4 linked regions of the Homo sapiens genome follow. The protein of the gene in region 4 purifies or fractionates together with the protein of the main gene of each other region. This does not show direct contact. Each region holds a gene or a part of one and is shown on either strand. Other genes may lie near its edges.

Region 1 (8,407 bases), on a different chromosome or scaffold from region 4:
TTATCGTGAAAAGTTTCCATGTCATCCCATAATATGTTTATCTCAATGTAAAAATAATGTTTTCCCCCAAAATTGTAAAGTAAAATTGACACTCCAGAAAGCTACGTCTCATTTATTCTGTCACATATGACCAGGGATATACAATTTAAGAAGCATAGCACAACACGTCTTATTGCTTAGCTCAGAAAATGATATAAAAATAATAAATAACTGCAGAAATTAAGGGCTAAGTTATAACTACCCTAAAATATACATAAAGCAGAAAAAACTGTATCTTAGAAAACTTTGCCTGAGGTGACATAATATTTTATTTTAGAGGCAAATAAGAAATAGGACAAAGGCCATTGGATAGTGAGAATATCACTGTTTCTGTAACTCTAAAACAGAATGGGTGCCCTAGCAGCATGAAGATTTGGGGCCATTCAAGTACTCTAACAGCAGAAAACACAGCAGAGCCTTTCTTCTGACTCTGCTCATCAAGAAATTGTCTGATCTTAATCTGATTTCCCAAGTTGTTTTTTTTTAACGGTAAGGAGAATCGATCAGAAACAACTCAAGTATTCCAGTACATTTGGCATTTGTAGTTCTCAAAGTAAATTATTAAGGTAGTATTCTGCTTTGTATGTCAATGTCTTGTGAATTTGTTTCCTAAGAATTTATCATTCTTCCTGGTAAACAAATATATTCAAGTTTCAGAAATTACAAAGCTGAAAAACAATAATGATATCAAATCATTGCCACCTGATAAAAGCCTTCCCAAAATATCCAGCCAATCTTGTCTTTATATAAAATATATATATATATATATATATATTTTTTTGAGACAAAGTTTCACTCTGTCACCCAGGCTAGAGTGCAATGGCATGATGTCAGCTCACTGCAACCTCCCCCTCCCTCCCAGAGTGATTCTCCTGCCTTAGCCTCCCAAGTAGCTGGGATTACAGGTGCCTGCTAACATGCCCAGCTAATTTTTGTATTTTGAGTACAGACAGGATTTCACCATGTTGGCCAGGCTGGTCTCAAACTCCTGACCTCAGGTCGTCTCCCCACCTCGGCCTCCTAAAGTGCTGGGATTACAAGCATGAGCCACCATGCCCAGCCTATATAACATATATTCTACCTTTAGAAATAAACAAAACACTGGCCAGATGTGGTGACTTCATGCCTGTAATCCCAGCACTTTGGAAGCCCGAGGTGGGTGTATCATTTGAGGTCAGGAGTTCAAGACAAGCTTTGGTAACATAGTGAGACCCCATCTCTACTAAAAATACAGAAATTAGCCAGGCGTGGTGGCACGCGCCTGTAATCCCAGCTACTCGGGAGGCTGATGTAGGAGAATCGTTTGAACCTGGGAGACGGGGGTTGCAGTGAGCTGAGATCATGACACTGCACTCCAGCCTGAGTGACAGAGTAAGACTCTGTCTCAAATAAATTAATAAAAGAAATAAACTAAACAAACATACATTTCCAATATGTGAATATTAATATATTAATATATCATATCACATTTCATTATATTGGTAACCTTATCTACAAGGTACACTGCTAAAACAACTATCTTGTGTGTCACCTCACATAATAAAATATGGACTGCTAGATTTAAAAAGACCAGTATACTATTCAAGAGCTTCCACAGGAGATGATCTGCAGGCAGCCAAACCTCTCCCACCTTTCAAGTCACGTTTAAAAAAAGGCCTAGTATGATACTTCTGAAAATTACAAATACTGTTCTGACCAGTCAAATCTAATCTACAGTTAGGCCTATACAATAATTGTCTGTCTTCCATATTTTATGCCCAAAAAACCACATGAAATACTTGATTATCTTACAGAAAAAGAAAAATATCACCATGCATTAGGCTATATTTGTTCTGAATGCAAAAGTTTAATAACATACCTCTGTTAAGACATCAGCCAGTTCAGCATGAACTTTAGTTTGTAATGATGTTCTAGCTACATCTAAGAGGATTTTTCTTTTCATCTCCTTTGTCACTTTAACTTCCTCCAAAACTTCAAGTGCTTTTATCTTTGCAGCTTCAAATCCTTCAGCTATTATTCTAGGGTGCAGGCCCTGTTACATCAACATAAAATTATAAATTATAAAATAAGTCACCCAATGTAAAAGTAACCAACCTGTCTGATTATTATGTTCAAAAAAAGTTACTCACATTAATGCCATGAAATATAAGTGTACATAATTTATAAAAGTCATTTTAGTGCTTCATACTTGAAATAATCTCAACCTTAACAGTAAGGCTTCAAGTCTAGTATTAAAAATTACAGAAGTCCTTTTTATTTCCAAAAATTATGACTACATTGTTGTTATGTGGTGCCCTTCTGAATGGGCACACATAAAAAGATTCCTTTCAATGCAGAGGAAAAGAACCACCACTGAATTGGGGAAAAGTGGCAGATAGAACACTGTGGTGTCTACCACTTCACCAAGTGATCAAAGTTAACATCACAATAATGAGACAGACAGGCATCACATGCCTGCTGACATGATGCATTCAGTAGAACACAACAGTTCTATGGTATTTTGGCCAACAATCTGTAACCTAAGTTTAATTGAGGAAATAGGCAAATCCACACTGAGGGACTTTCTACAAAATAAATGGCTTAAAAGTAGCAATATCATGAAGCATAAAAGGCAGCTCAGGAACTAGTCTAGCTTAAAGGATACTAAAGGAACACGACAACTGAGTGCAATGCATGAACTTAGATCTTTTTTTTCTATAAAGAGCACTATTAATATAAGTGGTGAAGTTTGAATAGAATGCAGATTAGATAACAGTAATGTATCAATGTGTTAATGTTATTATTAATTTCCTGGTTTTTATAACTATACTGCAATTATATAATTCCCTGGTTTTAAGAAATATACACTGAAATATTTAGATCATGTCTGCAACATACAGTTTAGAAAAGAATAAGTACACTGATACTAAGGAAGAGAACAGGGCAAGCAGGCAATGAGAGAAATGAAAATGCTTGAAGAATCTGGGTAAAAAGTATACAGGAATTCTTTGTAGTATGTTTGCAACTTTTCTATAGGTCTAAAATTATGAAAAAATATTTTAATAGTATTTTTTGTTCCATAAAATAATACACAAACTTTGTGAAAGCTAGCACTTGGTCTAATTCATTCCCTTACTACTTTTCTTTACATCAATCCTTAATAATCTTTAAAAGTTGACATTGAGTATTTGTGCTGGACATGACTAAGAGTTTTACACAAGTTATTTAATTCTCTAGCCACATCATGAAGTGGGTATTATTATTATTATTTTTCCTATTTCACAGATGAGAAGACCGAGGCTTAAAGGGATAATGTAATTTGCCTTAGATCACCAAGATAATAAGAAGTGAAACCAGGTTGTTTAAACCCATGAGACCTGACTTTAGAGCCTATGTTATTAACCATTTTCAAAAATGTCTTCAAGCTAGGACCCCACAATCTCTCATCCAGACTATCATGAAAACCTCTGGTCTAGACTCCCTTAAAACCATCCCCCAAATACTTAAAATGCCAACCTGACCATATCAGTCATTAGTATGTTTCTATGTTTGGTCTGTAATACCACTGGATGAAATCTAAGCTTCTTGGTTAGCATACTACATGCCCTCTGATCTGGCTCCCACTTCCCTCTCCAGCCTCTTCTCCACTACTGTTCACATCACCTGAAATTCCAGCAACACCAAAATGCTTGTAGCTTCATACAACACCATGTTGCTTGTCTTCTCTGTGACTTTGCTTATGTTGTTCCTTCTGCCTGGAAAGCCATTCTCCTCACCCCTTGCTCTTTTGTCTGGTTCACTCCTCCTCATCCTGAAGATTTAGGCCAGGCCTTACTTCCTCCAGAGAGTTCTTCCTGACTACTTCAGGCTAGTTTAGGACGTCCCTCCAGCCTCAGTGATTCCATCATATACTGTGCCCGGCTCTATCACTGCACCACCACAGAGTTTCATAATGTCTGTTAGCATCTCACCCTTGCCAAACTCCTTTCTTCCTAACCCAACCCTAATTCAGTTTGGGTTTCCCTCTCCCACTTGTGCTTTGGAGAAAGCTGATCTTATCCCCAGCTCAAGGAGTGGATCCTGATTAGTCTAAGTCAATTCCCATAAAAACTGTTACTGGCTTGGGATGGACATAATACTAAAGTTGGCCCAATCATACTAAAGAAAAGCCTCCTGAATGGCTTTATCTTGCCCTCTGCCTAATTTCCTCTGACAGTCTTTCTTCGCTCTCCTCTGTCCTCTCTCTCCTCTCTCCTCTCTTCTCTCTCTCTCTTTCTTTTAGAGACTGGGTCTCACTCTGTCACCCAGGCTGGAGTACACTGGTGCAATCATGGCTTACTGCGGCCTCCACCTCCTGGGTTCAGGCAATCCTCCTGCCTCAGCCTCCCAAGTAGCCAGGACCACATGCAGCATGCCACCAAGCCTAATTTTTTTTTATTATTTCTAAAGACAGGGTCTCACTATGTTGCCCAGGCTGGTCTCAAATTCCTGGGCTCAAGTGATCCTCCTGCCTCAGCCTCCCAAAGTGCTGGGATTACAAGCATGAGCCACTGTGCCCAGCCAGTCTTACTTTCTTTTTCTTTCCTTTTTCTTTCCATTTTTTTTTTTTTTTTTTGAGATGGAGTTTCACTCTTGTTGCCCAGGCTAGAGTATGATGGCACAATCTTGGCTCACTGCAATCTCCACCTCCTGGGTTCAAGCAATTCTCCTGCCTCAGCCTCCTGAGTAGCTGGGATCACAGGCGTGCACCAACACGCCTGGCTAATTTTGTATTTTTAGCAGAGACAGGGTTTCTCCACGTTGGTCAGGCTGGTCTCGAACTCCCGACCTCAGGTGATCCACCTGCCTCGGCCTCCCAAAGTGCTGGGATTACAGGTGTGAGCCACCGCACCTGGCCTCTTACTTTCAAGATGGAAATACTCTTAGGATGAAACAGCACTGTGAGTGGAAGAGGTAAGAGACAAAGAACCTGTGTACTTGATGACTGAATTTTGTTATCACACAACCTGACAGTCTCCCTTATCTCTCAATTTTCTATTATGGGAGATAATCATTTCCTTATTGTTCAAGTGAGTTTTAGTCAAGTTGTTTACAGCCAAAAGCATCCTAAGTTGCAAGTACTGAATTAATAGAAAATTCCCAATACTAAACGAAACACAGAGAATCATTTTGACTAGGTTACTCTTTGCTGAAATGGTCCCTGAAAGAGAGAAAACATTCAGATATGGAGAAAAGAGATACTTAATTAGAGAAAGGTAAAAATGTACATGATGTTTTCAGAGGCCAGTGAACGGAGGAGTCTGGCTGAAGTAGATGATTTATAAAGAAAATGAAACTAGAAAGGAAGGTAAATTCACAATAAGTAAAACCTTCAATAATTTTTCTCCAGTGGTTTTATAAAGGTGCATAATTTGGTTTCAACTTTATCTATGGTGTTTTCTTTCTTAATTACCCATGGATACATGGGTAATTTTTTACTTTTTTAGGTCCGTTAAATATTTCATTTTTAAAAGAGGTATATAATTCCAACGAAAGGCATTATTTTGGCCAACAAAGTTCATTATTATTTCCATTTATAATTGTCCAAGAATATCTTAATTAAAATTAACTGTCTAGACCAGGCACGGTGGCTCATGCCTGTAATCCCAGCACTCTGGGAGGCCCAGGCAGGTGGATCACCTGAGGTCAGGAGCTCAAGACCAGGCTGGCCATGATGGTGAAACCCTGTCTCTAAAAAAAATACAAACATTAGCCAGGCATGATGGCGCATGCCTGTAATCCCAGCTACTCGGGAAGCTGAAGCAGGAGAATTGATTGAACCTGGGAGGCGGAGGTTGCAGTGAGCCAAGATTCTGCCACTGCACTCCAGCCTGGGCGACACAGTGAGACTCCATCTCAAAATTAATTAATTAATTAATTAAAACAAAATTAACTGTCTAAAACTCAACCATTTTACTAGTTAAAAAAATAATTTGCCATTCAAAATAACATATAAACTGTGAAATTCTAATACCTCAGAAATGTACAGGTCAGCTTGTTTTAATAACTCTCCAATAATTAGAACATTTGAAGTAGTACCATCTCCTGTGACGTCATCCTGAGCTGTTGCTACTTTTGCTATCAAGGAAGCTGTTGGATGTTGAATTTGCTGGAAAAAGCAAGCAACAGATTTAAAAAGACAGGATGAGATAAGGAAGTAGGTCACCAAAAGCAAGATAACCTAGGGGTCAGTAGCAAAATTAAAAAATGAAATAAGCTTCATTCTACAAGTTTACAAGTTTTGTATTATCAATACCTAAATGTCAAGTCCAAAATTTTAAAAGTGACAGGTAATGAGGCCTGAACATTTCATAAAAGTCTTTGCTTCAGAATGCAATGACATTTCTAAAATAAGATTAAATCATTCAATCTCAAAATGAATACATGTATTAAACTTGCAAAGGATATTTTTATTTTTCCATAATTACAAAGAACATAAGGCAGTGCCCTTAAAAGATATTATTGATTTATAAGTATGCCTAAGTATACAAAGTATGTATAAGTATACAAAGACTTGGAAACAGCCAAAAAAAAAAACTTTTTTTTTTTTTTTTTTTGAGACAGGGTTTCACTCTGCCACTCAGGCTGGAGTGCAATGGCACAATCTCATTCACTGCAGCCTTGGCCTCCTGGGCTCAAGTGATCCTCTCACCTCAGCCTCCAGAGTAGCTGGGACTATAGGCGTATGTCACCACACTGAGCAAAATTTTTTTTTTTTTTTTTTTTTGTAGAGACGGTTTTCACCATGTTGCCCAGCCTGGTCTTGAACTCCTGGGCTCAAGCAATTTGGCCACCTCAGCCTCCCAAAGTGTTGGGATTACAGGAGTGAGCTACCACACCCGGCCAAAAAAATTTTTTTATTGAGGTCTAATTCAACAGTCTTCAGCATATCTCAAGACTGCAGTATTTAGCTCACAGCCTTGGCTTAAAGATACACAAGTTCTACTATGCTTCTAATTAAGGCTTATTAAGGTTTATTAAAGTCAGCAGCATCAGCTCACCATCTCATCGAGCAGCACATTGCCATCTTTGGTGAGTTTGATGTCACCTGCACCAGAAACAAGCCTGTTCAGAGAAGAATGATATTAACTTCATGTGGTAGGAAGACATTCCCAGTGCTTGCCACTCCATTATCCTTAATAGAGGGAACTGGGCTCGGAAAACTTCCACTGTACCATGGGAATATGCCATGGTAATTACCACCATTTGCAGCTCACAGAATCATTTCTCCCCAGATGGACAGATTATGGAGATTTCATTCCAAATGGACTATTTACAGGTTTAAAGATAAAAGCACTTGATGAGTTACGAACTGTGGTTTGGTCAAAGAATACTTGGAAGTCTACAAAGCACAAATTCGCAAATTTCCTGCAGGTTTTAATTTTGGTGAATGTTTTCATTCATTCAGTCACTCAACTTAGTTTCCCTCATCCCTGCATTTATTAGATCACCAAGTTCTATCAATTCTACTACCTAAATATCTCTTGAATCTGCCACCTTCTCTCCATCTCCACTGTTATCATCTCTACTTTGGATGGCATCCGGATATCTCCAAACTTAAATATACCCTCCACACATTTTTCTTTCTAAAAGGCAACGTGATTCAGTCAGTTCCCTGATCAAAAGTCCTCCAATGATTTTTATGTTTTCCATCATTTTCAAGTTAAAATCCAAACACAGCAATGACATACTTGACCTTTCCCAATATCTTCCCTGCCTCATCTACTTTTCCACAAGCAAATCTTCTGGTTCCCTTAATATACCATGTTTTGTTTCGTTTCTGTTGGATTTGCACCATTGGTCTTTCTTATTCCTGAAATTACTTTGCCCAGGCCTTTACTCCCTCTTCCAACTAGTGAAGTCTTATTCTTCTTTCAAGACTGATCAAACATGTTACTTAAGATGCTTTTCCTTCTGCCATCAGTCCCTTTCTTCAGCATAATTATATGCATCTATATATAATTAGCACATCCTACTCTACCACATCCGTCTCTACCACATCTCCTTAAGAACAGAAACCGTTATCTTGATCATTTCTGTGTCCCAACAACTGGTACCTAAGTGACTTATTTTACCATTAATATTATTTTGTTCATTACTATGAGGATGTGTCTCTCCTCTTATACCCTTTTGCCCTCACTGGTCTCTTTTCCTCACTCTTGTCTATAGAAAAGGGTGCTTAATATATACTGAAAAGATGAATAGATCTGAACAACCATAGACACGGGGTATTCAAGTAGAACTTGGATTTGACCCCATGCCTTCCTGGCTCCAAAGCCTGTGTCCTCTCCACTACAATACATTGCCATACAAAAAACAAAACTACTTGTTGAATTTATGGACCAAGGGT
Region 2 (3,647 bases), on a different chromosome or scaffold from region 4:
GTCCAAGTGCTGCCCCCAGCCCCTCCCCCCACCTCCTTTCCCTACACAGGTCCTCTCTCCTTTCCACTCTGAAATCTCAGGGTCTCTGTGTCCTTGTTTTTGACAGAGAAAGGGGATAACCTAATATTTATGGAATGTGGACCCTGTGCAGGCAATGTACTCAGTGCTTTCTGCATGTTATTTTACAATTTCCCAAACTTGGCTTATCATCAGAATCACTCGGGGGCTTTAAAAAAAAAAGAGAAGATTCCCAAGCCCCCGCCCTACACATCCCAATTCAGTGGATCTAGCATGGAGTAAGAGAACCTGTTTAGTTTTATGAGTCTCACCGAAGGTCCTGTTGATTAACTGAGTATTAAAAGCAGTGGATTATCTCAGAACAGCCTTAAGAAGGAGGAACTGTTATTGTTAACTCCAACTTGTGAAGGAGGAAACTGAAGCTTAGAGAGGCTAAATAAGTTGCCCACAGTTACACAGGTGTTGAGTGGCTGAGCCGTGGCTCAAAGACAATCTGACTCAGAGCCGATGCTCTTAACACGTGGCTGCCCTGCTCCTCTCATTTTCCTTTACTGGCGCTCGCCTTGCTCTGCCCTTTTTCTCAGTGTTTGACCAGTTTTTATGGATTTTTTCCAAAACCTCCATGGTTTTGCCTCCTACTGCAAGCCCAGGGGCTGAGTAGACATCCCTCACACTGCCCCTGCATTGCCCCCAGCTCTCTGCTGGCCTTGGCAGGGAGCCCCTTGCTACAGCCATGGGTATTCCTTATAGGCCTGCCTCTTGGGCTTCTTGCTGGGAGTCTGCCTTACAGCTGATGACAGATGACATCACTGAACTTGATACTTTTTTTTTTTTTTTTTTTTGAGATGGGATCTTGCTATGTTTCCCAGGCAGGGCTCCTGGGGTCAAGCTGAACTCCCGCCTTAGCCTTCGGAGTAGCTGGGATGACAGGCATGCACCACCATGCCCAGTATCACTGAGCTTGATTCTGTGACGGGCTATTCTTAGCAGCAGTGATGTCTGGTTGGCCTGATTCTCCTCCCATCCCCTTACCTGGGCCAGGCTTTGCTGTGTAGGAATCAGAGCTGCATCAGACCTGGCCCCAGCACTTGAAGTGCTCCCACAGGGAACAGGAGGACTTGTGTGCAGGTGACCTTTGGGAGACTAACTGTGCACAGTGCAGGAGAGGCCCTGCAGCAGGGGAGCGGAGCTTGTCAAGCAAGGAATGCATGTATTTTTTTGTTTTTTTGAGATGGAGTTTCGTTCTTTTTACCCAGGCTGGAGTGCAGTGGCACGACCTCAGCTCACTGCAACCTCCGCCTCCTGGGTTCAAGTGATTCTTGTGCCTCAGCCTCCCAAGTAGCTGGGATTACAGGCATGCGCCACCATGCCTGGCTAATTTTTTATTTTTAATAGAGACAGAGTTTCACCATGTTGGCCAGGCTGCTCTCAAACTCCTCACCTCAGGTGATCCACCCGCCTCGGCCTCCCAGAGTGCGGGGATTACAGGCGTGAGCCACCATGCCCGGCCTGAATGCACATTTTTTACTGGAGCACAGTCTGGGCAGAAGATGATTGGTTGGGGAAAAATCACATAGAATGTCTAGAAACCAGGAAGCCTCAGTTCTTTCTGAGAAGAATCTCGCCATCCTCTGGAGCCTCTCTGATCCTTATCCAAGGCTAACAAGGCCTTTTTGACCCCTGACCTCTGACCCACAGGCTGAGGCAGATGTGGCCTCCCTGAACCGCCGCATTCAGCTGGTTGAGGAGGAGCTGGACCGGGCCCAGGAGCGCCTGGCTACAGCCCTGCAGAAGCTGGAGGAGGCCGAGAAGGCGGCTGATGAGAGCGAGAGGTGGTCAGGGGCCTCGGGGAGGATGGTCCGGGAGGGAGAAGGGAGCCTGTCTCTGCTGGTCCTGACCCTACGCTCACCCTCTCCCTGCCTTTCAGAGGAATGAAGGTCATCGAAAACCGGGCCATGAAGGATGAGGAGAAGATGGAACTGCAGGAGATGCAGCTGAAGGAGGCCAAGCACATCGCTGAGGATTCAGACCGCAAATATGAAGAGGTGACAGCCTTGCCCCTCTGCCTGCTCGCTGCCCAGCCTGCAACATGCCCAGTCCTTCTCCACTGATCTACCCTCTCTTTCTCACTCCCCACAGGTGGCCAGGAAGCTGGTGATCCTGGAAGGAGAGCTGGAGCGCTCGGAGGAGAGGGCTGAGGTGGCCGAGAGGTAAAGATACCCGGGGGTGACAAGTGAGCCCATTGGCCCTGGGGCCTTCCACACAGTGGGAAGGTAGCATCCTAGGCTTGGGGCTGTAGGGACAGGCCCTGTTCTCTGACCCCTGCCCGCTGCCCCCAGCCGAGCCAGACAGCTGGAGGAGGAACTTCGAACCATGGACCAGGCCCTCAAGTCCCTGATGGCCTCAGAGGAGGAGGTAGTGACCCCTCTGAACCTTTCTGGGCAATGGCGCCTTCTCTCAGCTCACCTTCCCTCCGTCTCAGCACCGCAGGCTGCTCTTTCTCAGCTGCTGGGGATCAGGAAGGGCCTGGGGCTTCTGAGCCCTGCCTGCTGTCACTCTCACAACTTTGCTCTTCTCTTCTCTCCTCCACCCGTCCCCTGCTGTGCCATCTCCACTGTCTGGCTTCGCTGTGCCCTCACACCCTGCCCCCCCCGCCACACACCCCCTGCAGTAAATGTGGGGACCTAGAGGAGGAGCTGAAAATTGTTACCAACAACTTGAAATCCCTGGAGGCCCAGGCGGACAAGGTAGAGGGGAGCAGAGGGGCAGTGAGGATGGGGTCCCACAGGGGAGGGAGGTGAGGGGCCCAAGGCAGGGAGGGGCTGGGTGTTCAACGGAGGCAAGATGACCAGGAGCCTACGGGGTACAATGGAGAAATGAAGGATCTGTGGTAGCGCTGTACTGATGGCGTGTGTGTGTCCCCAAAAGTATTCCACCAAAGAAGATAAATATGAAGAGGAGATCAAACTGTTGGAGGAGAAGCTGAAGGAGGTGAGAGTCCTCTTCCAGTTCCCAGTCTCCCCTCAAGCCACCCTAATCCTTGCCAGAGACGGCCTGTGGCAGGACACTTGAGGGTTGGGATGGACAAGAAGCTTGACTTAGGCAGTAGTCTGTGGGAGGGCCTAATTCTTTGCCATTTCTCCCATCCTGCCTTTACCCCCAGGCTGAGACCCGAGCAGAGTTTGCCGAGAGGTCTGTGGCAAAGTTGGAGAAAACCATCGATGACCTAGAAGGTAAAAGAAGCCTTTATAAGTAGGTCCACACCTGCCGTGATTATCAGTCTGTCCTGTACCTTCTCATCCCATTTTATTTGCCACCAATAAACTAGGGTTGGGCCACCTAGGACCCTACCAACTCCCCAACTCTGTGGGCCATGTCTACAATTCAAGTAATTGTAGCTGCCCACGGCGCAACAACTCCAGTGCTTCTCAAACTTCAGCATGCATGAGAATCACTGGGAGAGTTTTAAAAACAGATTCCTTGACTCTGCCCCAAAGAGATTGCTGACTTTGGGCTGGAGGATTTACATTTCTAGCTAGTTCTCTGGTACTGCCAATGCTGCTGGTCCTCATGCCACACTCTGAGTGGCACCCTTATAGACAATTCCGTCCCCGAGTGTAACGCAGTAG
Region 3 (3,676 bases), on a different chromosome or scaffold from region 4:
CCATCTTCAAGAAACTATCTTTCACTCAAATGATTCCTTTTTTTTTTTTTTTTTTTTTGGTGACAGTCTCACTCTGTCGCCCAGGCTGGAGTGCAGTGGCGCGATCTTGGCTCACTGCAAGCTCTGCCCCTCCAGGTTTAAGCAATTCTCTGCCTCAGCCTCTGGAGTAGCTGGGATTACAGGTGCGTGCCACCATGCCCGGCTAATTTTTTGTATTTTTAGTAGAGACGTGGTTTCACCATCTTGGCCAGGCTGGTCTTGAACTCCTGACCTTGTGATCCACACGCCTTGGCCTCCCAAAGTGGCCCTGTGGCAACCATTGTGCTATAGCCTGGTATTGTTAATTAGATTACCTTATTTCACTGATTTGAAGACCTACATTTTCCACATGTTAACGTCTCTGGAGTTGGTATGTTACAAGTTAATTAGCTGTGAGTTCTCTTTCTGAGCAATAGACAAAACACTGACGTGTCCTTAAAACATTGGTGTCTTAGATCCAATGACACATGGGCAGTTTCTCACGTAATTCGGGCGCTCGCCAGACACTGGTTCACTACAGTGGCCGGAGAACCTCAGGAGGTTCTACCAAGTGGGAGTGAGAGTATCTGGTCTTCTCCGTGTTCCCCAGCGGACTCACGCTGCTGCAGCTGAGTAGGCTTGGATCGTGTTCTCCCGTCCCTTTCCATCTCCATCGAGGATTAGCCATACCGAGCGTCCATTGCTGATTCCATTAAAGCCTACAGGACTGCCAAGTCTCTCGCTTCCTTCCTCCACATTTCTGAACAATTTTCAGAAAGGTCATGTACTTTCTATTCACACAAACCACCCACCCCTCCACCCCTGCACACACTGATGCATACTTTCTCCCACGCCCCCAAATGCCAGGCCTGCCAGCACCAGCCGTGAGCGGCGCTGGAGCGCAGGGAGCAAGAGTCTGCGAGAAGCTGAGAAGGGGGCGTCTCTCACTCAGCACAGCCTCATCGCGGAGCCACTGCAACACACACAACAGCGAACGCAGGACTTAACTCTTCCATGTCTGAGAAATGAACTGCTCATGAGAAATTTCACAAGAATACGTTAAGAAGCCTGTTTCAAAAGACCTAATTTTGATTTGATTTTGTGAAGGAGTTTCCAAAATTAATGTTTCGGTATGAAAAGCTTCTACAGTGATCCAACAGTATTTAACCCAACAAGGCCTTTACAAACACCCTGTGCATGATGTAAGCATTCACTCCTCATGTATATATGTGTCCATGTCACATAATAGTTCACAAAGTACCCACACAGACTCATCTCAAAGTCCTGGGCAGCAGAAATGGACAAAGAATGGTTCCAAGCTCAGGCCACAGCTTGAATACCAAATTATGCTATGAAAAGGCCAAGTGTTTTTGTGGTAAAAGCACCCACATTCCTTAGAAGCAAAAAGGAAGCTCAGAAAGGGAGACTCACAACCCCAGGAAGAGGGCTCGGAGCAGGGGAGCAGCAGACCTTTCTCTCCAAAAAGCTTCCAAGGCCCCAATGCCCCCACCACCTCCAACCTTCCGGATGACCCACTTCTCTGAGACCAGCTCCACTCCTGGCCCCCACTTCTCCCACCGGAGTTTTCATTGAAGGTTCTCCATGTCGTCATCCTAAAGAGCTCCTCATTCATTCTTAAAGGGGCTAATAATCATTGTTGGCACTTCCAATGTGCTAGGGCAGCAGCTGGGTGTATGCAATGGGTATAGGTGGTACCCCCATGGACCTTTTTATTTTAGTGGCTATGTATTTATTTTAACATCCTTTAGATAAATTACACAGATAGCAGCACCTATGATCTCAGATATAATTGCTCAGGACATGTCGAAGTTTAAAAAATTGATTTTAAGCTTACTTTCTTTTTTTTTTTTTAAACAGGTCTTGCTGTGTCACCCAGCCTGGAGTGCAGTGAGGGGATCATAGCCTCACTACAACCTCAAACTTCTGGGCTCAGGCAATCACCCCATTAAGTCTCCTAAGTACTACAGGCACATACCACCATGCCTCACTAATTTTTTTAAAGACTGAATCTCACTATGTTGCCCGAGCTGATCTGGAACTCCTGGCCTCAAGTGATCCTCCTGCCTCAGCCTCCCAAAGGGCTGGGATTCCAGGCATGAGCCACCATGCCTAGCCTGATTTTCTTTTTTATAATTAAGTAACAGTACAGGCAAAATCAAACTCTTGATTCCCCCTGCCCCAGGGTGCCCCTCTTCCAGGGCTCCCTCACCCCGTAAATGGCACCACTGTTGTTTAAACCAAAACCTTAAGAGTCCTTTTTGACTCTTCTTCCTCTGTCACACACCTCACATTCAATCCATCAGCAAATCACATGAGCTCTTCCTCCAAAACACAACTGGAATCTGATACTTCCCACCATTCTTCTGCCATCCCCATGGCCAAGACACCTTCTCGCACCTGGATGACTCTAGGAGTCTCTTAGGAGGTCCCAGGCTTCCACTCTCACCACTCAAACTCAAAAGAGGGATTTTTCGGCCGGGCACGGTGGCTCACGCCTGTAATCCCAGCACTTTGGGAGGCCGAGGCTGGCAGATCACGAGGTCAGGAGATCGAGACCATCCTGGCTAACACGGTGAAACCCCGTCTCTACTAAAAAAAAAAATACAAAAAGTTAGCTGGGTGTGGTGGTGGGTGCCTGTAGTCCCAGCTACTTGGGAGGCTGAGGCAGGAGAATGGCGTGAACCTGGGAGGCGGAGCTTGCAGTGAGCTGAGATTGCGCCACTGCACTCCAGCCTGGGCAACAGAGCGAGACTCCGTCTCAAAAAAAAAAAAAAAAGAGGGATTTTTCTCCAATCAAAAGTCACATCACATCAGGTCCCTACTCAATCTGCTCCCCATGAAAGCTTCACATCACATGAAGAATGGAATCCAGAGGCCACATCAGGACCTGTGAAGCCCAGCATGGCCCCCGGCTCCCTCAGACCTCAGCTACTCCCAAGCTCCCCCAAGGCACTCCACCCAGCTGCACCAGCACCCCTGAGGCTCCTGAAACAGCAGCCTTTGCATCTCCTGCTCCCTTGGGCAGGAATGCTGCCCCCATTTCCCCGTTTTCATCTCATCAAATGTGGAGAAGTCTTCCCTTACCACCCTGTCCAAAATGGCACCCCCAACATTCTGTGTGTGAATCTAGACTGTTCCTCATAGCACCACCTGATGCTGTAGTTTGGATATTACAAAATCACAGATGATCTGTATCTGTTCGGTGCTCACTGTCTGTCCCCTTTACTAGACCATCAGCTCCACAAAGGCGGTGTCTCCTGCACCTGCAGGGTGCCTAGCACATAGTGAGTGCTCAGGGACATTTAAGGGAATGAACAGCATTCACTCACGGCAGCACTGAAGGTAGAAGTTTCTGGTTAGCGGGCAACCAAGCCAGGCTAGTAGTGGAATGTGTCAGTTCCTTTAACACCAACAATACTCCCCAGAGTCCTCTTGGTTTGGAGAAACTAAGGCTCAGGGACATAAAGTGATTTGCCCAAAGCCAGTATGAGACTAACACTGTTTTATCCGGCTGAAAGGTCTGGGTCCTTTTGAACACATCAAGCTCTCCTTAGAACCTCTTTGTGGCCGGGCACAGTGGCTCACACCTGTAATCCTAGCACTTTGGGAGGCCCAGGCAGGCGGATTGCTTGAGGCC
Region 4 (8,216 bases):
ATGGGATTTCTGTTGAGATTCTTGGGAATCTTGAGATAGGTGTTATTTTCCCACTGGTTTTTTGAACTGACAGGATGTATGCTAGGTATACTAAATTTTTTTTTTTTTTTTTTTTTTTTTTTTTGAGACGGAGTCTCACACTGTTGCCTGGGCTGGAGTGCAGTGGCACCATCTTGGCTCACTGCAAGGTCTGCCTCCCGGGTTCATGCCATTCTCCTACCTCAGCCTCCCAAGTAGCTGGGACCACAGGCGCCCGCCACCACGCCCGGCTAATTTTTTGTATTTTTAGTAGAGATGAGGTTTCACCATGTTAGACAGAATGGTCTCGATCTCCTGACCTTGTGATCCGCCCGCCTCGGCCTCCCAAAGTGCTGGGATTACAGGCGTGAGCCACTGTGCCCGGCCAAGTATACTAACATTTTTGTACGTGGAAAGACACAAACTAAGAATGGAGTCAACAGAGAGAATATGAACTGAGAGAGAAAACGGGTCTTGCATTAAATCAGGCCAAAAAGCAACCCAAACTACTATGGGACTTTTCAGTTATGTGGGCTAATACATTCACTTTTTGCTTAAGACAATTTGGATGAAATTTTCTTTCACTTATAACCCCAAAGATTCTACTGACTTTTAACCTACTTTGAAAGGGTAGTTGAGAAGATTAAATAAAGTAAGACATGTCAAGCACTAACTTTGACTAGAAACAAACATAACAACAGGCTGGGTGTGGTGGCTCACACCTGTAATCCCACACTTTGGGAGGCTGAAGCGGGCAGATCACCTGAGGTCAGGAGTTCAAGACCAGCCTGACCAACATGGTGAAATCCTGTCTCTACTAAAGCTACAAAAATTAGCCAGGCGCAGTGGCAGGCGCCTGTAATCCCAGCTACTTGGGAGGCTGAGGCAAGAGAATCGCTTGAACCCGGGAGGCGGAGGTGGCAGTGAGCTGAGATTGTGCCATTGCACTCCAGACTGGGTGACAGGGCAAGACTCCGTCTTGAAAAAAAAAAAAAAAACCCAATAATACTGTCTTTCTACTTCCAGAACTATAAGCACACCCTTTGACTTACAAGGGATGCTAGTTTGTTCCTGTCATTAATGTCAGACAACGCTGCTAGTATAAAATAGAAATAAATAGGTAATCTGATTTGTTGCCAAATAGTATTTTAACCATTTGGTTAATACAAGGGAGAAAGACAAGGAAATCCCTACAAAACTTTATTTTAGGTTTCTTTGGAAATATACTTCTGCCTGTGGAACAGTTTAATCTTTCTTAACTTTCGCCTTTCTTCAAGGTACCTTTCCCCATTCTTTGTTTCTTCACAAACATTATCTAATAGGACTCCCAGATCTATTTTGAATAATTTCCTGACTACTTCGCGCAGGCATGATTTCTTCTCCTGAAGTTTTTTTGCCATTACGGTCTCTGCTAGGCATCCGATACTCACATGCTGTCTTGTACTATTAGTAATACTAACATGTATGAATGCCTTATGTCTCCAGCAACACCAACTTTCTTGAGTAATTGAGTCTTTCTCTTTCTCACTGCACCTAACACAGTTATGGGCACTAGAATGTAAGCTCCCTAATTTAGAAATTTTTGTTCATTGGTGTATTTGCAGTGCCTCGAAAGTGGCCAGGACATAACAGGTAATCAATAAGCATCTGTGGGGCCGGGCGTAGTGGCTCACACCTGTAATCCCAGCACTTTGGGAGGCCAAGGTGGGCAGATCACTTGAGGTCAAGAGTTCAAGACCAGCCTGGCCAACACTGTGAAACTCCATCTCTACTAAAAATACAAAAATTAGCCAGGCATGGTAGCGCGCGCGTGTAGCCCAGCTACTCGGGAGACTGAATCCCGAGAATGGGTTGAGCTCAGGAGGTGAAGGTTGCAGTGAGCTGAGATCGTGCCACTGCACTCAGGCTTGGGTGATGGAGCGAGATTCCGACTTAAAAAAAAAGCACCTGTGGGATGCATGAGAATGAATGTTAGTTCTTTACAAATTCTTGTTGATTAACTGGATGACTGAGAAGCCTTCAGGGTAGATAGTTTTCCTTAAGAAGCCTCCAGTGAGTTTCTAGAACCTTCAGACCAGTTTTCAAAGTTTTAAGGACGAATGCTGGTTGCAGATGAGTTGGAACAAGGGTGACAGACCTGTGAATCTGAATACAAGGAGAACTCAGGACAAGGGAGCTTCCTTCTCTGACCACAGCTTCCTACCACAGTTCCCACTTCCCAGTTCTTAGTACCTCAAACACCAAAATTTAATAATTCACACAGTCGGCTACCCTTTTTTGGGCCATATTTGATTTTTTTTTTCTATCGAGCATTCTGTTGTCCCATACTTCATGATGCCTTGAGAAGTTATCATTGCTATGAGCTAAGTTCAGTTAATTCTGTGCTTTGACAACTACTATGTACCTCTATTTGATCTTTGGACTTTGGACTTTTTCACCCCAATTTATCACTGCTGGACTAATCTTTCTAGAATATCACTTTCATGATGCTACTACCCCTATTCAAAAGTCCTTAATGATTGCTATACATCACCTACTTAAAAGATTTAAATTTCTTAGCTTTGTGCCCACAGCTCTGTGACCAAGTCCCCAGTAATCTATCTTCCCTGTTATTATCCAGAACTCCAGAACAGAACTTATTAGTTTTAACTACTCAAATGTACTCATGTCCCCCGAAATCACCTTGTGTTTTTGTATCTTTGAATTTATTTTTGCTCATGTGATCTAAATATCCCAACTTCTCTAAGTCCCTCTTTTTAACGTCCAAATTACAATTCTGCAAGACCCCTCTTCTTTAAGTTACTTTTGGAATTTTTTTTTTAAATTTATTATTATTACACTTTAAGTTTTAGGGTACATGTGCACAATGTGCAGGTTAGTTACATATGTATACATGTGCCATGCTGGTGCGCTGCACCCACTAACTCGTCATCTAGCATTAGGTATATCTCCCAATGCTATCCCTCCTCCCTCCCCCGACCCCACAACAGTCCCCAGAGTGTGACGTTCCCCTTCCTGTGTCCATGTGTTCTCATTGTTCAATTCCCACCTATGAGTGAGAATATGTGTTGTTTGGTTTTTTGTTCTTGCGATAGTTTACTGAGAATGATGATTTCCAATTTCATCCATGTCCCTACAAAGGATGTGAACTCATCATTTTTTATGGCTGCATAGTATTCCATGGTGTATATGTGCCACATTTTCTTAATCCAGTCTATCATTGTTGGACATTTGGGTTGGTTCCAAGTCTTTGCTATTGTGAATAATGCCGCAATAAACATACGTGTGCATGTGTCTTTATAGCAGCATGATTTATAGTCCTTTGGGTATATACCCAGTAATGGGATGGCTGGGTCAAATGGTATTTCTAGTTCTAGATACTTTTGGAATTTTTGAAGAATGCTCTCAGAAAGTCTCAGAAAGCCATTCTGTGGTCACTTGTCACCATGGCCAGTTGTCTCACTCCAGACAACCCCTCTTCTCTCACTTGATCACAGTTTGCTTTTACAAAGCCGGCTTCTACAGGCTGCGGCTGCTGCTCTCTAGGGACAATTTTTGCCACAGGCATGTTCCTGGGCTGCATATCTAATCCCATGCTGGGCAGCTAAATCCAGACTACAGTATGAATCCAGACTATAATAGTTTGCAAAATTTAACAAAAGGTTGAAGTATAACTAGAGGGATGACTGTACAGTAAATTTAAGGTGGGCACGTAGGTATGAAGGCTGCTAGAGTCCACCAGCTCAGCCCCTGCAGAGGAGGCTTCCATGCTGATGATCTATAACTCTCAGCACCAACCTTTCCTCCTCCCTCGCTTTCCACAGTCTCCACAGTTGCACTTCAAAGGCCAGTTTCTCTCTACCAACAGTACTTAGTCAGAGAATAGGCATGTATTGTCTTTCAAGTTCTAGGCATTGTGGACACAAAGGTAAACAAAATGGACACAGTACTTGTTTTCATGAAAGATATTAAACAAATTATAACAAATAGCTGCGCAAATAGTTCCAAGTGTACAAATGCTGCCAAAGAAATCCCTGGAGTCCGTGCTCAGGACCTCTACGTTCTCTGGGGCCTCCAAAGAGGAAAAACCAATTTTCCCATCTCTTCAGTCAATTAATAATAATCTATACAAAAGCAATTCTGGCCCCAAGAAGACAGCTTTTTACATTATTATGCAGACAGTTAACTGTTTCTCTTTTTTTTTCTTCATATTTCCTCAGTAGAGAATGCAGCCAAAATTCATGAGCACTTAAACTATGTGCCTGGCATCATTCAAAGACCAACATATGTATTAATTAATACAATTTTCCAAAAAAGGGAACTTATGAGGTAGTCCTATTATTATTATTATTATTATTTATTTTTATTTTATTTTTTGAGATAGAGTCTCGCTCTCTCGCCTAGGCCGGAGTGCAGTGGCGCGATTCAGCTCACTGCAACCTCCGCCTGCCGGGTTCATGCCATTCTCCTGCCTCAGCCTCCTGAGTAGCTGGGACTACAGGCTCCCACCAGTACGCCCAGCTCATTTTTCTTTTTTTTTTTTTTTTTTTTTTTTTTTTGTTATTTTGTTGTAGAGATGGGGTTTCACTGTGTTAGCCAGGATGGTCTCGATCTCCTGGCCTCGTGATCCGCCTGCCTTGGCCTCCCAAAGTGCTGGGATTACAGGCGTTAGCCACCGTGCCCTGCGAGGTAGTCCTATTATTTTTTTCCATTTTATAGAAAAGACAATTAAGGCGCAGAGAGTTAAGTAACCAGCTCAAGGTCACACAGCAAGTAATGGCAAATTAAAAAATCCAGGCAACCTGACAGCCCAGCCCAAACTCTTTATCACTACTCTATTATGCCTTATAATACAGATAATTTGCATAATCACAAATGAGTCATCAAATGATTTTTCCAAAACAATGGAGCAATCTTTCCTCAAAGGTCCTATCTACCTCCACCTTTAGAGCGGAGAAAAAATAGTGGCAATTCCTCAGTATCACTTTCCCATCTTTCGCCTCTGGACTTTCATCCAAGGGCCAAGCCCAGAGTACCTCGCCACATCATGTGCTCCCTTCAACTGCTGTTCTCTTCCATTACTGATATCCCACCAGTCTTTCCATAGAAGCCAGACTAAGCCTATCTTAGTTCAGAGTGATCTCTTCTATCTCTGAATTCATGCAACAATCACTATTGGTAGTCACACTCTTAAAGATTACCTTCCTAAATAGGTTTATAGGGAGTGTATGTTTCCCCAAAGTAAACTGCCCAGTGCCTTGCACAGAATTGGTATTCAAAAAGAATTACTGATTGGCCACTTGATTGATCGAAAGGGTCTCCAGGTCATAGGGAACTGTGAGGTAAGCAGCAAAGCTGGTAGCAAACAGACATTTCAGTTCTTGATTTTATGTTTTTATGTAATTTAAAAAAATCTATGGGTATTATGAGGATATCTAGAAAGTAGTTATTCATTCAATAAACATTTAATATGCCAAGTCATTGTGTTAGGTATTAGAAGTAAAACATACTCTTTCTCCTGAGCTCTATACCCAAATTGCCAGCTGCATTCCAGATTCAAATCCAGGTTCAAGTCCAAGATTATCGTCTTTATCCCACAACACAGAAACACATCTTTCAAACTTGCTCCTCCTCAAACCTCAACATTTCTTACAGGCTTCCCATGACCCATGGGATATATGTCAATGATTTTTGCCATCAAAATAAACCAAAAACAATCTAGGTTATACATTCATTCTATGAATGAAATAAGGAACAGTACTAAGATAACCTGCTTCTCACTCTTTGAACGACTTACTAATGCCATCAGGCAACTTTCTCTGTTTACATGTAGCTCTTGTATTAGCCGTGGGACAGCTGCAGTTTTAATTTATTATGTGATACAAGAGTTTACAACCACTTTCAGAACCTTTTTTTTTTCTGAGACGGAGTCTTGCTCTGTTGCCAGAGCTAGAGTACAGTGGCACAGCCTCGGCTCACTGCAACCTCACTTCCCGGGTTCAAGTGATTCTCTTGCCTCAGCCTCCTGAGTAGCTGGGACTACAGGCACACACCACCACAGCCAGCTAATTTTTGTACTTTTGGTAGAGACGGGGTTTCACCATGTTGGCCAGGATGGTCTCGATCTCTTGACCTCGTGATCCGCCCGCCTTGGCCTCCCAAAGTGCTGAGATTACAGGCGTGAGCCACCGTGCCAGGCCCCAGAACGTTACTTCTTTACTGAGGCTTATAAGTGGAACAAATGAAGCAAAAGAATTGTTATGCTTTGCCTAGCTTTACAGATGTAAACGCTTGTGCAATGAAGAAATGTAATTAAATGAAACAAGTTAAATAAACTAACAATTCATATTAATGATCAGTGGTAGACATGTTTAGTTTTCTGCTACATTTTCAATCCATAATTAATTAGCTTATAAATTAAAATACATGGAAAATTGAGGATTCACTTGAATCACAATGCAACAAATATGAACTAGATTTCTAATTCCTTGTAACTTTCTGTAAAAATTCCACAACTTTTTTGGTATAGATTTTATTATGGATGAAATTTGATCCCCGGTTAGTATTCCACACAAATTTTTAAAAAGGCATCTTGGTGTTTGCTTTCTTCTGCTCTAAGTAGGCTCCTTACATTTTTCTTGAATTAATTTGCAAAGTATATGTTTATCTATAAGTTAGTATTAAGATAGAAAAATGATAAATACAAAATAGTAGAGGTACATAATCTGAAAGAACATTAAGACATGTCTCCCACACCATAACAGTGGTATAAAACATGAAGGTGACGCCTGATAGGATCCACAATAAAGTAAGAAAATGTCTGTTCATGATTCTTTGCTGAAGGATAGCACATACCAGCAGAATCCTGAAAAAGACAAACCTAAATTATTATTATTTTATTTTATTTATGTATTTATATATTTATTATTATTATTTTTTGAGACAGAGTCTTGCTCCGTCGCCCAGGCTGGAGTGCAGTGGCGCGATCTCGGCTCACTGCAACCTCTGCCGCACGGGTTCAAGTGATTCTCCTGCTTCAGCTTCCCGAGTAGCTGGGATTACAGGCATGTGCCACCATGCCCAGCTAATTTTTGTGTTTTTAGTAGAGACAGGGTTTCAGCATCTTAGCCAGGCTAGTCTTGAACTCCTGACTTTGTGATCCACCTGTCTCGGCCTCCCAAAAGGCTGGGATTACAGGCTTGAGACACAGCACCCGGCCAATCCTAAATTAGTTAGTATACAACTACATTTAAGTGATAATCAATATATTTGCCTATTATGTATTTTCTGTCAAAACAGGAAACATGGATAAAATCTTTGACAATAAATTGGCAGTTAATTAATGATTTAAAATATTTATGGACAGCACAGTCTACTATGATAGGAATACATATGTACTATACTTACATGCATAATTTTTGTCTTTAAGGAATTTATAGTCCAAAGACAAATCCCATCATTTTAAAAAAAGTGCTTTTAAAGTGCTAATATTGCAACAATTTTATATTTAGCAATTTTCTATCTTTGTTTTCTCTTTTTTTTTTTAAATTTTTTTTGGAGTTGGAGTCTTACTCTTTTGCCCAGTCTGGAGTACAGTATTGGTACCACCACAGCTCACTGCAACTTTTGCTTCCTGGGTTCAAGCAATTCTCATACCTCAGGCTCCCAAGTAGCTGGGATTACAGGCGTCTCCCACCACACCCGGCTAATTTTTTGTATTTTTTGTAGAGATGGGGTTTTACCATGTTGGCCAGGCTGGTTTTGAACTCCCGACCTCAAGTGATCTGCCCTCTCAAAGTGCTGGGATTACAGGCATGAGCCACTGCACGGGGTGGGGACTATGTTTCTTTTGTTTATCACTGTGACTTAGCCCAGTACAATAGCTGATACACAGTATATATTTAATAAATACTTGTTAAGTGATTGAATGAAGATACTTAGAAACTGCTTCGAATGTAATAATATCTTTTGTATAATACTGAAATTCAAGTACCAGATTCTATGTATAAAGACACATTTATGGCATTCTTTTTTTTTTTTTTTTTTAGATGGAGTCTCGCTCTGTTGCCCAGTCTGGAGTGCAGTGGCATGATCTCGGCTCACTGCAACCTCCGCCTCCCAGGTTCAAGCAATTCTCCTGCCTCAGCCTCCCCAAAGCTGGGACTACAGGCGCGTGCCACCATGCCCGGCTAATTTTT

The links.
Region 1: the proteins of CFAP300 (region 4) and CCT6B purify together in Homo sapiens (affinity purification with mass spectrometry, with the first as the bait; one large-scale study listed by BioGRID). This does not show direct contact.
Region 2: the proteins of CFAP300 (region 4) and TPM2 purify together in Homo sapiens (affinity purification with mass spectrometry; 2 studies listed by BioGRID and IntAct, with this or other methods). This does not show direct contact.
Region 3: the proteins of CFAP300 (region 4) and TAB1 purify together in Homo sapiens (affinity purification with mass spectrometry, with the first as the bait; one large-scale study listed by BioGRID). This does not show direct contact.

Annotation. Positions count from the first base shown.
Region 1 is NC_000017.11:34,952,529-34,960,935, forward strand, and holds part of CCT6B (T-complex protein 1 subunit zeta-2), read right to left. Parts: intron 7,123-8,407; coding exon 7,059-7,122; intron 6,167-7,058; coding exon 6,032-6,166; intron 2,072-6,031; coding exon 1,898-2,071; intron 1-1,897. UniProt on the Homo sapiens protein: Component of the chaperonin-containing T-complex (TRiC), a molecular chaperone complex that assists the folding of proteins upon ATP hydrolysis.
Region 2 is NC_000009.12:35,683,850-35,687,496, reverse strand, and holds part of TPM2 (tropomyosin beta chain), read left to right. Parts: intron 1-1,716; coding exon 1,717-1,850; intron 1,851-1,945; coding exon 1,946-2,063; intron 2,064-2,157; coding exon 2,158-2,228; intron 2,229-2,357; coding exon of another isoform or gene 2,358-2,689; coding exon 2,690-2,765; intron 2,766-2,946; coding exon 2,947-3,009; intron 3,010-3,181; coding exon 3,182-3,251; intron 3,252-3,647. UniProt on the Homo sapiens protein: Binds to actin filaments in muscle and non-muscle cells. Plays a central role, in association with the troponin complex, in the calcium dependent regulation of vertebrate striated muscle contraction.
Region 3 is NC_000022.11:39,402,780-39,406,455, reverse strand, and holds part of TAB1 (TGF-beta-activated kinase 1 and MAP3K7-binding protein 1), read right to left. Parts: intron 1-3,676. UniProt on the Homo sapiens protein: Key adapter protein that plays an essential role in JNK and NF-kappa-B activation and proinflammatory cytokines production in response to stimulation with TLRs and cytokines.
Region 4 is NC_000011.10:102,081,738-102,089,953, reverse strand, and holds the end of CFAP300 (cilia- and flagella-associated protein 300), read right to left. Parts: intron 6,884-8,216; coding exon 6,755-6,883; coding exon of another isoform or gene 6,682-6,754; 3' UTR 5,400-6,681; downstream 1-5,399. UniProt on the Homo sapiens protein: Cilium- and flagellum-specific protein that plays a role in axonemal structure organization and motility. May play a role in outer and inner dynein arm assembly.